Linked DNA regions of Homo sapiens. The protein of the gene in region 1 purifies or fractionates together with the protein of each later gene. This does not show direct contact. Each region holds a gene or a part of one and is shown in the gene's direction. Other genes may lie near its edges. The genes, in order: GCGR, DYM and SLC25A35.

Region 1 (3,647 bases):
GGGCTGGGCTGGGCGTGCTAGCGGAGGCTGGTCCAGGGGAGGTGGATGGTCAGGTGAGGAAGGTGGAGGTCAGATGGGGGAGGTGGAGGTCAAGTGGGGGAGGGAGCAGCCCAGGCCATGTCCTGGGCGAGGTGACGGCCGAGCTCAGGCTTCCAGAGAGAGGAGAGAGGCCTGCTGAGGGAGCCCCTTCTCCCACCCTGCCCTGCCCTGCTCTGCCCTGCCCTACCCTACCCTGCAGAGCTGGTGTGCAACAGAACCTTCGACAAGTATTCCTGCTGGCCGGACACCCCCGCCAATACCACGGCCAACATCTCCTGCCCCTGGTACCTGCCTTGGCACCACAAAGGTACCCATAGAGGGGAGGAACTGTGGGGGGGGCGGGCCCAGGGTGGGGCTGACCCCAGCCTCCCCCCACACCCCCAGTGCAACACCGCTTCGTGTTCAAGAGATGCGGGCCCGACGGTCAGTGGGTGCGTGGACCCCGGGGGCAGCCTTGGCGTGATGCCTCCCAGTGCCAGATGGATGGCGAGGAGATTGAGGTCCAGGTCAGTGGGCGGCAGGCAGGCGCGGTGGGGCTGGATGGGAACGGGCATGGGGGCCCCTGCCTGGCCCTCACAGGCCACTGTAACTCGCAGAAGGAGGTGGCCAAGATGTACAGCAGCTTCCAGGTGATGTACACAGTGGGCTACAGCCTGTCCCTGGGGGCCCTGCTCCTCGCCTTGGCCATCCTGGGGGGCCTCAGGTAGGATTCCGCCAGCGCCCGGGGCGGCCGCAGAGGACAGGGAGGAGGACGGGCGCTGACTGGCTGTGCCCACAGCAAGCTGCACTGCACCCGCAATGCCATCCACGCGAATCTGTTTGCGTCCTTCGTGCTGAAAGCCAGCTCCGTGCTGGTCATTGATGGGCTGCTCAGGACCCGCTACAGCCAGAAAATTGGCGACGACCTCAGTGTCAGCACCTGGCTCAGTGATGGAGTGAGCCCCCCTCGGCGGCCCCAGGCAGGTGGGTGGGTGGGCAGCCAGGCAGGTGGCCACGTAGCCGCGCTCACACTGCACCTGTACCAGGCGGTGGCTGGCTGCCGTGTGGCCGCGGTGTTCATGCAATATGGCATCGTGGCCAACTACTGCTGGCTGCTGGTGGAGGGCCTGTACCTGCACAACCTGCTGGGCCTGGCCACCCTCCCCGAGAGGAGCTTCTTCAGCCTCTACCTGGGCATCGGCTGGGGTGAGTGGGCTGGCATGAGAGGGGGTTAAGGCAGGCTGACCAAGCCTTTGGGACCACAGCTGCTGCCCCCCACAGGTGCCCCCATGCTGTTCGTCGTCCCCTGGGCAGTGGTCAAGTGTCTGTTCGAGAACGTCCAGTGAGTATGAGCGGCTGGACAGCCTGGGGAGGGACCGGGGGGCTGGGGTGCGGCGCTCTGGCCTGAGGCAGGGAGGGGCCGGGGATGAGCCTGGTGCCTGGGGAGGGGGTCATTTGTGACCTTCTCCCTTCCTTTTCTGAGACCCGAATTAGATCCTGGCAAAATCGGGACGGGGGTGCTGAGGGGCGGAGGGGCTGGGGGCTGTGCCCCAGTATGTGAGTGGCCTGGCCTCGCAGGTGCTGGACCAGCAATGACAACATGGGCTTCTGGTGGATCCTGCGGTTCCCCGTCTTCCTGGCCATCCTGGTGAGGAAATGAAGAGCCAGGAGCGCACCCCAGGCCCCTCCTCCCTTGGCGTCCTGAGGCTGCCCCAGGAGACAGCAGCATCCTGTCTGAGAGCGCTGGGAGGGAGCCGGCACCCAGACAGGACACCAGGACACTGGCCAGCACCCTGGACACTGAGCCAGGCTGTTCCTCCCTGGCTGTGTGCCCACCAGCCCCAGGGCTATGTGGCCCAGGGCCTATCTTGCTGCCAGGCCCACCTGCAGGAGGGTCAGGTGGGGCCTTCCAAGGGCACAGAGCTGTTCCCTGGGGCTCGGGATGCCCCTGACTCGCACCCTTCTCACACAGATCAACTTCTTCATCTTCGTCCGCATCGTTCAGCTGCTCGTGGCCAAGCTGCGGGCACGGCAGATGCACCACACAGACTACAAGTTCCGGTGGGTGCCGCGGCAGCTGGCGTCTCGAGACCTGGAGACCCTCAGGGCCAGAGGGCAGCTGGGGGTGGGGACTCCAAGCTCCACGTGGATGGTGCGGGCCGAGGGTGGGGGCGGTGGGTGACTCAGGCGCTGCCTCTGCAGGCTGGCCAAGTCCACGCTGACCCTCATCCCTCTGCTGGGCGTCCACGAAGTGGTCTTCGCCTTCGTGACGGACGAGCACGCCCAGGGCACCCTGCGCTCCGCCAAGCTCTTCTTCGACCTCTTCCTCAGCTCCTTCCAGGTGCCCGCCCGCCCGCCGGCTCCCCCGCCCGGGGCGCAGTGTGCCACCCCTGACCACCCTGTCTCTCCAGGGCCTGCTGGTGGCTGTCCTCTACTGCTTCCTCAACAAGGAGGTAGGTGGGAGTGGGGGCATCTGAGACCATCAGCACTGGCCGTCGGGGTCAGGGGCAGAGAGAGGCACAGGGATGCCAGCCCCACCCCTGCCCGGGGGTTGGAACACGTGGGGCCCAAGCCTTTCCCTCCCCCTGCTCTTATTGGGTGCAGTTGCCATGGCGCTGGGTGTCAGGCCCCCAGGACAGGTTGGCCTCAGCCCCATCGCTACGGTGTCCACCGTGGGGGTCCCCAGGTGTCTGCAGACTGCTTTCCGTGGCGATGCTGGGTGGCATAGCTGTGCCCAGCAGGGAGCTTGTGTCGCTCTGCACCCCTCAGAGCGGAGACTGGGCATCTCCGATGAGGCCCACAGCAGGTCCCGGTGGGGTGGAGAGGACAGGCAGGCCCTAGGACTGGCCTGCCCCGTCCCCCTCCCCAGGTGCAGTCGGAGCTGCGGCGGCGTTGGCACCGCTGGCGCCTGGGCAAAGTGCTATGGGAGGAGCGGAACACCAGCAACCACAGGGCCTCATCTTCGCCCGGCCACGGCCCTCCCAGCAAGGAGCTGCAGTTTGGGAGGGGTGGTGGCAGCCAGGATTCATCTGCGGAGACCCCCTTGGCTGGTGGCCTCCCTAGATTGGCTGAGAGCCCCTTCTGAACCCTGCTGGGACCCCAGCTAGGGCTGGACTCTGGCACCCAGAGGGCGTCGCTGGACAACCCAGAACTGGACGCCCAGCTGAGGCTGGGGGCGGGGGAGCCAACAGCAGCCCCCACCTACCCCCCACCCCCAGTGTGGCTGTCTGCGAGATTGGGCCTCCTCTCCCTGCACCTGCCTTGTCCCTGGTGCAGAGGTGAGCAGAGGAGTCCAGGGCGGGAGTGGGGGCTGTGCCGTGAACTGCGTGCCAGTGTCCCCACGTATGTCGGCACGTCCCATGTGCATGGAAATGTCCTCCAACAATAAAGAGCTCAAGTGGTCACCGTGCATGTCCTGGAAAGCAGGGCTGGAAATGCTGGGGCCGAAGCAGTGGGGGATGGAACAGCGGTGGGTGGTCAGCGCCAGTGCGGGCTGTTGAAGGGTCCCCCTGCTGTCCCAGTTCACTCAGAGTTGGCACTGGAACCCCGGAGGATCCCGAAGGCAGCCAGCCTGTGCCCATCTGAGCAGGTCCTGGCCACCTTCCCATCCTGGTTCTGGCGGGCAGTCC
Region 2 (3,647 bases), on another chromosome or scaffold:
AAAGTCTCTTTTCCCAGCAACATAATCAGAGCTTCCATGGATTAGTATGTGGACATCTTTGGAGGCTATTATTCTACCTACCACAGTGTATTTTGGAATATTTTGCCGAGACTTAAGAAAGTAGGTGATTTCTTTTGCTGCTGTACATGCAACGAGAGGGCCGTCTTTTACTTAGGATTGTAGATAATGGGAATGGTTAGATCTAGAGAAGACTGTTCATTTTTCCTTTTAGTGAAATATGGGAAATACCTGTGACACTTGTAGTATAGGCTTTGGTAAAATGAGACCTTTAAAAATGATTTAAGTATAAAAGCAATACAGCTCCATGTAAAGTTTTTCTATATTTCGTTTTGGTCTCTTTTTCATATTCATGTCTTAAAACATAGTATATATGTGTAATCAGAGGGCTAACCTGATACTTGACACAGGACACGCTGGGGGCAATGATGGTTCCCATGCCCAGGATGAGAAGGCAGGGACTCTCTGTCCAAGTGGGAGATAAAGGCACCCCCATTTCAGCAGCAAAAGAAGACTCCTAATGAAAGTGAGAGAATATCTTCAGGCAGAATGAACTACTGTGAGATTTGGACTTGAAGCAGCCTCTTCTCAGGTTCTTCTGTGACTCAGCTGGGAATGGTAGAGTGCTGTGAGCCTAGAAGAGCAGAGTGATAAGATGCCCATTGCTGCTTTTCCTTTCTTCGGACAGAGAGAGGACTAATCTTAAAGATTGAAAGGATTTCTGGGAGTCCTCCAGTTTGGTATCCTGTTTCCTAGTGGGTTTCACTTTCCTACTTAGCTGTCAAAGTCCTTACTGTCTCTAGGTGTGAAGGTTCTGGCTTTCTGGTGGTGGTGCACCATTTATCAGGAAATGTGATGGGACTTATTAAATATCTGCTCTTGCCTTTAAGCATTTTTTTTTCTAGTAAGGTTTTTAGCAGAGCTTTATGCTTTGAACTTTGCTTGTAAACAGTTTGTAAGTTATCCTCACATTACTTAATTCTAGACAAAATGAACTAGTGGGGCTGGGAACAACTTTACATATAGGTCTTATTTAGTAAAAGTTTTTGTTTTTTTCATTTCTTAAGGAAGTTTGGTTAGTGATTTTGGTATCTTCTCTGATTTTTATCACATTCTTTAAAAATGCAGGCAATGAAAGTGGCTGAAACTTTCCAATAAGGACATTGGAATAATTATTTTTAAAAAGCTTATCTTTTCTTTTATTGCTCAGTCTTTTGGGCATTTAAAACCTTTTGTCCATCATATGATCGATGACAAATTTCTTTGTTAGGTTGAGTCAGTCACTGAATCTTGACAATTATTCCTTCAAAATATGTCATGCAACCCTCCACCCAGAATACTTTGAAAACCCTACCTGTATCAGTTAGGCTTAGGTTTGGCTATGAATAACAGAGACCTGAAAAATAATAGCTTAAACATATGACTAGTTTGTTTCTTTTGTAAAAGAAGTCCAGAGGTGGACGATTAAAGGCTGGTTTGGCAGCTCTGCTGTCATCAGGAACCCAGCCTCCTTGTAGTTTCTTACACTGTTAACCCTAAAGTATGGCCCTTGATTTCTGGGTCCAAGATGGCTGCTGGAGTTCTAGCTAAAATTTCCATGTTCCTAACAGCAGGATGGAGGAAGGGATAAAGAAGTGACTGTCCACTCTTAGAGACTTAAATATATCTTAGTTGAACAGGAATATGCCTGGTCAAAAAAATGGAGTTCTGTTACTAAAAGGAAGAGAGGACTGGAGATTGGGTAGGGAATTAGCATTTTTTGCTTTTTTTTTTTTGAGACAGTCTGACTCTGTTGCTCAGGCTGGAGTGCAGTGGTGGGATCTCGGCTCACTGCAACCTCTGCCTCCCAGGTTCAAGTGATTCTCCTGCCTCAGCCTCCTGAATAGCTGGGATTACAGGCATGCGCCACCATGCCCGGCTAATTTTTGTACTGTTTTTAGTAGAGTTTTCACCATTTTGCCCAGGCTGTCTCGAACTCCTGACCTCAGGTGATCCACCCACCTCGGCCTCCCAAAGTGCTGGGATTACAGACAGGAGCCACTGCGCCTGGCCTCTGCTCCTTTATAATTAATTTCTCTGAACCCAGACTAACCTACATACTTTTTGAAACTCTAGGTTTGAGTCCTAGTTCTATCATTTATTTGCTTTGGCATGTTACTCAACCTTTTTGAACTTCAGTTTTCTTATCTGTATAATGGGACTAATATATACTTTATATGTTTGTTAGAGAATTAAATGAAAATACCTCTATGTACCTAGCAATATATACACTATAACTATTAGTTGTTTTTCATTCTCTTCCTTTAGATTTCTCGACTTGGATATCTGAATGAGTGGTGTAAAAAGATGAGAATTAGAGATGGACAAGGAGAAGGATGTATATTCAGTTCAGTATTGAGCATGTGGAGTTTGAGGTGCCCTTGGGACATCAGATGGTGATAGATGTTAGGCAGTTAGATAAACGGGACTGACACTCAAAAGACAGTTCTGACTAGACATAGATATTTTGGATTGTAAGTGTATAGGGGTAGAATTCATCAATCTGGAAGTCTTAGGGAGGATGTATGCAGTTGTACGGTTACTATGTGCGGAGTAAGAAGGCATGCCCTTTAGTGAGTCTCTCTGTAAAGCGTCAAGCCTCAGCTTACTTTCTGGCCTTTTCTTTATTATTTTTATTTTTTTGTGGGTTAAGGAGTGGAAAGTCTAATAGAAGAAAGGAGAGAGGAGAGCAGCTCCTTGAGAGAGAGAGAGAGAGGTCCAAAAAAGGAGGAGGCCATGGACCGCAGCAGATTTTTTTTTTTTTTTTTTTTTTTTGAGACAGAGTCTCGCTCTATCACCCAGGCTGGAGTGCAGTGGCGCGATCTCGGCTCACTGCAAACTCTGCCTCCTGGGTCTACGCCATTCTCCTGCCTCAGCCTCCTGAGTAGCTGGGACTACAGGCGCCGGCCACAATGCCTGGCTAATTTTTTTTTTTTTTGGTATTTTTAGTAGAGACGGGGTTTCACTGTGTTAGCCAGGATGGTCTCGATCTCCTGACCTCGTGATCCACCGGCCTCGGCCTCCCAAAGTGTTGGGATTACAGGCCTGAGCCACCGCACCCGGCCTGCAGCAGATTTTTATATGGAGAAGGCAGTGTCTGATTTACATAGGGCTCACAGATTGGTTCGATCATGCATGACGTCTACAGAGTGTGTGGGGAAGGCTGGTTGCCTCAACCTAATCTTATGCAAATGGGCTTTCCAGTTGATTGGCACCATCCTGTCTGCTCCTTTACAGTACATGTGGCTGGCAGAGAAGGGAAGATGGAGCCGCCATTTTGAAAATGTCTAGTCCTTAGTTTCTGCAGGCATTATCGTGTGCAAGCTCCCAGCTTGCAGGCTGCTCTTTGTTAGAAAATGATTTGGGGCTGCTTTTCATTAAAAAGAACAGCCTTACTGAGGACTCCCATGCCCTTGCTATCTGCCTAAGTAATTCCTTGTTAACTCCTATATCATCATTCCCTGCTCTGGAGTGGCAACCCTAACTGCTGTTAGGGGGTGTTGGGTGATGACTCTTTCTGGCTACTTCCTGCTGAAAAGGGGCATCATGTGGGGATCAGCAGCTAGGGCTCCTCCTGGGGTCAATCTAAG
Region 3 (3,747 bases), about 74 Mb from region 1:
TCTTTATGAGATGGAGTCTCCGTCTGTCACCCAGGCTGGAGTGTAGTGGCGCAATCTCGGCTCACTGCAACCTCTGCCTCCTGGGTTCAAGTGATTCTCCTGCCTCAGCCTCCCGAGTAGCTGGGATTACAGGTGCCTGCCACCACACCCGGCTAATTTTTGTAGTTTTAGCAGAGACAGGGTTTCACAATGTTGGCCAGGCTGGTCTCAAACTCCTGACCTCATGTGATCTGCCTGCCTCTGCCTCCCAAAGTGCTGGGATTACAGGCGTGAGCCACCACGCCTGGCCTCATCTTTGTATTTGGATTCAGAACTCATTTTGGTGGTGGCAAGACAACTGGCTTTGGCATGATTTATGATTCACTGGATTATGCAAAGAAAAATAAACCCAAATGCTGACTTCCAAGACATGGCCTGGATGAGAAGAAAAGAACTCAAGAAAGCAATGAAAGGAACACAAGACCAGAATGAAGAAAGGGGGACTGCAAAGGACAGTGTTGGTGTGGCAAAAAGCCAAAGGAGTAAAGATGCTACAGTAACATCTGTGGCCACTGTGGATTTTTCACAAGATTTATAAACTAAAAACTTTTGTGTGCAAAAAAAAATGGATGGGGGTATGCTAAAGAGACACAGGAGCCAACGGAAACAGCTCTCAAAGGCCAAAGCTAGAACGAAATTAGCTAGAAAATAAATATGAAGTATATTGGATTATAACCCAAAGTATAAATGTCCATGAGTCCATACTGATTAAATAAATGGTTGAATAAATAATGGAGGAGTAGAGACAAATATCTCATATGAAAGAACTCCAGGCCAGGGATGGTGGCTCACGCCTGTAATCCCAGCACTTTGGGAGGCTGAGGCGGGTGGATCACGAGGTCAGGAGATCGAGACCATCCTGGCTAACACGGTGGTCTCTATTAAAAATACAAAAAATAAGCCGGGCGTGGTGGCGGGCACCTGTAGTCCCAGCTACTTGGGAGGCTGAGGCAGGAGAATGGCGTGAACCCGGGAGGCGGAGCTCTCAGTGAGCTAAGATCGCGCCACTGCACTCCAGCCTGGGCGACAGAGCGAGACTCCGTCTCAAAAAAAATAAAAAATAAAAATAAAGAGCCTAAGGACTAAGGATTTAATTAACCAAGCACCAACCCGTGCAGCCTCAGGAGACTGGTCCCGCAGCGCAAGTGTGTCCCTCTACCCCCCGCAAGCCGGGCCGCGTCTTCCTGGCTCTCCTGGCGCCGGCACCGAGCAGGGCGTGGACCTGAACTTATGTGACCCCACCCGGTCACAACCCGGGGTAGGAAGCTAAAGCCGTCCGCCCACCCGAGGGGCGGTCCCAGCACCCCAGTGGGGGACTGCTGCGCTCGGCCTCTGTGTTCGATCGGGAACCCAGGTCTCTTCCCTGCCAATAACAAAACCGCCGCGTCCCGGGCCTCCCTTCCGGAGCCGGAGTCGGCGGCCGAGCGCTGGTGGCGGAGCCTGGACAGTTAATTCCAACCGCCTCCGGGTGATTCCGGGGACAGGAGCGCCGAGAGCTCCTCCCTTTGGCCGCGGAGCCGGCTCGGCGCTGATTGGCTGAGGGCCTCGGTTGTGGCTCTTGAAGGCTCCCCATTGGCCCCGCGCTCCAGTGGCAGGAGTGTGGCGGCCCGGCCTCCGCAGGCTACCCGGGGTTGAAGCTACTGCGAGCTCCGGTGGCTGCCTGGGGACGCTCAGGGACGCTCATTCCTGGCCAGAGTCCTGACTTCTTTCTCGGATCGAGATCTCGTTGCTGGCTCGAGGAAATCACCGGCTCTTCTCCCGGATCCTTTTCTTCTCTCACTTGCTGGCTTTCTTCTTCCTGCCTCCCTGGCTTCCATCTCCCAACCCCGCGATTCCCTCCTCTACTCCCGTGCTCCCGTCGCCCGCCATCCTGAGCCATCCCACCTGCAACCTTCTGTCTTTTGCCCCTCCTTGACCTCAGAGGGTCCTGCCTTAAGCTTCTCACCAGAATCTCCTAGATTTCTATCTCTTCCCTGCTTGCCAGCTCTTGACTCCCAAATTCCAGCTGACGTTTGACCACTTGACATTTGACCCTGACACCCTTGACTGCAAATCTAAATTCTTATCTTCTGCAACCTGTACTGCTGAAACAGGCCTTCCCCCTGTCTTCCAACCCCGCTTTCTGACACCCATTTTTACTTTCTTACTCTTGGGTCAGTTCCTGCTACAGCTATCCCACCATGGACTTCTTGATGAGTGGCCTGGCAGCCTGCGGGGCCTGTGTATTCACCAATCCCCTGGAGGTGGTGAAGACCAGGATGCAGTTGCAAGGAGAACTGCAGGCCCCTGGCACATACCAGCGGCACTACCGAAATGTCTTCCATGCCTTCATCACCATCGGCAAGGTGGATGGCCTTGCTGCCCTGCAGAAAGGCCTGGCCCCCGCCCTCTTGTACCAGTTCCTGATGAATGGCATCCGACTGGGCACCTATGGGCTGGCTGAGGCTGGGGGCTACCTGCACACAGCCGAAGGCACCCACAGTCCTGCCCGCAGCGCAGCAGCTGGGGCCATGGCTGGGGTCATGGGAGCCTACTTGGGGAGCCCCATCTACATGGTAAGAAGAGGGCTCTTGCCTGGGACCTTCAGGGCAGATCCTCGTTGTAGGATAGGAGCTGTTCTTTCCCAAGGGCATAGGTGGCAGAGTGCTGCCCCACTGCAAGCAGGGAAAGGCATCAGGAAAGTGCTGGTAGGCTTCGGAGTCTTCTGATCTGCCCTATACACACCCATCTGATGGACACGATTGAATGTATTGATTAAGATTATGGGCTTTGGGGCCGGGTGCAGTGGTTCACACCTGTAATCCCAGCACTTTGGGAGGCCAAGGCGGGCGGATCACGAGGTCAGGAGATGGAGACCATCCTGGCTAACACAGTGAAACCCCGTCTCTACTAAAAATACAAAAAATTAGCCGGGTGCGGTGGTGGGCGCCTGTAGTCCCAGCTACTCGGGAGGCTGAGGCAGGAGAATGGCATGAACCCGGGAGGCGGAGCTTGCAGTGAGCCGAGATCCGGTCACTGCACTCCAGCCTGGGCCACAGAGCAAGGCTACGTCTCACAAAAAAAAAAAAAAAAGATTATGGGCTTTGGAATCAGACTTTCTGGAACTAAAATCCTGGCTTTGAAAATTACTAGTTGTTGGCCGGGCGCGGTGGCTCACGCCAGTAATCCCAGCACTTTGGGAGGCCGAGGCGGGCGGATCACGAGGTCAGGAGATGGAGACCATCCTGGCTAACACGGTGAAACCCCGTCTCTACTAAAAATACAAAAAATTAGCCGGGCGTGGTGGTGGGCGCCTGTAGTCCCAGCTACTCCGGAGGCTGAGGCAGGAGAATGGCCTAAACCCAGGAGGCGGAGCTTGCAGTGAGCTGAGATCCGGCCACTGCACTCCAGCCTGGGCCAGAGAGAGAGACTCCGTCTCAAAAAAAAAAAAAAAAAGAAAAGAAAGAAAATTACTAGTTGTTGAGCTTCAGTTGCCACATCTGTAAAATGGTGATAATTATAGTGCCCTTTCTGTGTGATTATTGGGAGGATCGAGGGAGACAAATGCGGTAGACATGAAAGCATTAGTGCGAATCCTGGCAGACAGTAAGCATTTGGTAGCATTTGTTTTTATTATTATGTGTTGATATTGAGGTTGGATTTGTGAAGGGGAGGATAAGGAATTTAACATACGTCAGAGAGTCTAGGGATCAGGAAGGCCCTGGGCAT

The links.
Region 2: the proteins of GCGR (region 1) and DYM purify together in Homo sapiens (affinity purification with mass spectrometry; one large-scale study listed by BioGRID and IntAct). This does not show direct contact.
Region 3: the proteins of GCGR (region 1) and SLC25A35 purify together in Homo sapiens (affinity purification with mass spectrometry; one large-scale study listed by BioGRID and IntAct). This does not show direct contact.

Annotation. Positions count from the first base shown.
Region 1 is NC_000017.11:81,810,587-81,814,233, forward strand, and holds the end of GCGR (glucagon receptor precursor), read left to right. Parts: intron 1-238; coding exon 239-346; intron 347-423; coding exon 424-545; intron 546-635; coding exon 636-742; intron 743-817; coding exon 818-974; intron 975-1,064; coding exon 1,065-1,224; intron 1,225-1,299; coding exon 1,300-1,360; intron 1,361-1,596; coding exon 1,597-1,666; intron 1,667-1,990; coding exon 1,991-2,079; intron 2,080-2,220; coding exon 2,221-2,359; intron 2,360-2,429; coding exon 2,430-2,471; intron 2,472-2,887; coding exon 2,888-3,103; 3' UTR 3,104-3,422; downstream 3,423-3,647.
Region 2 is NC_000018.10:49,454,093-49,457,739, reverse strand, and holds part of DYM (dymeclin), read left to right. Parts: intron 1-3,647. UniProt on the Homo sapiens protein: Necessary for correct organization of Golgi apparatus. Involved in bone development.
Region 3 is NC_000017.11:8,293,280-8,297,026, reverse strand, and holds the start of SLC25A35 (solute carrier family 25 member 35), read left to right. Parts: upstream 1-1,626; 5' UTR 1,627-2,219; coding exon 2,220-2,594; intron 2,595-3,747. UniProt on the Homo sapiens protein: Putative antiporter that exchanges dicarboxylates and sulfur oxoanions across the inner membrane of mitochondria.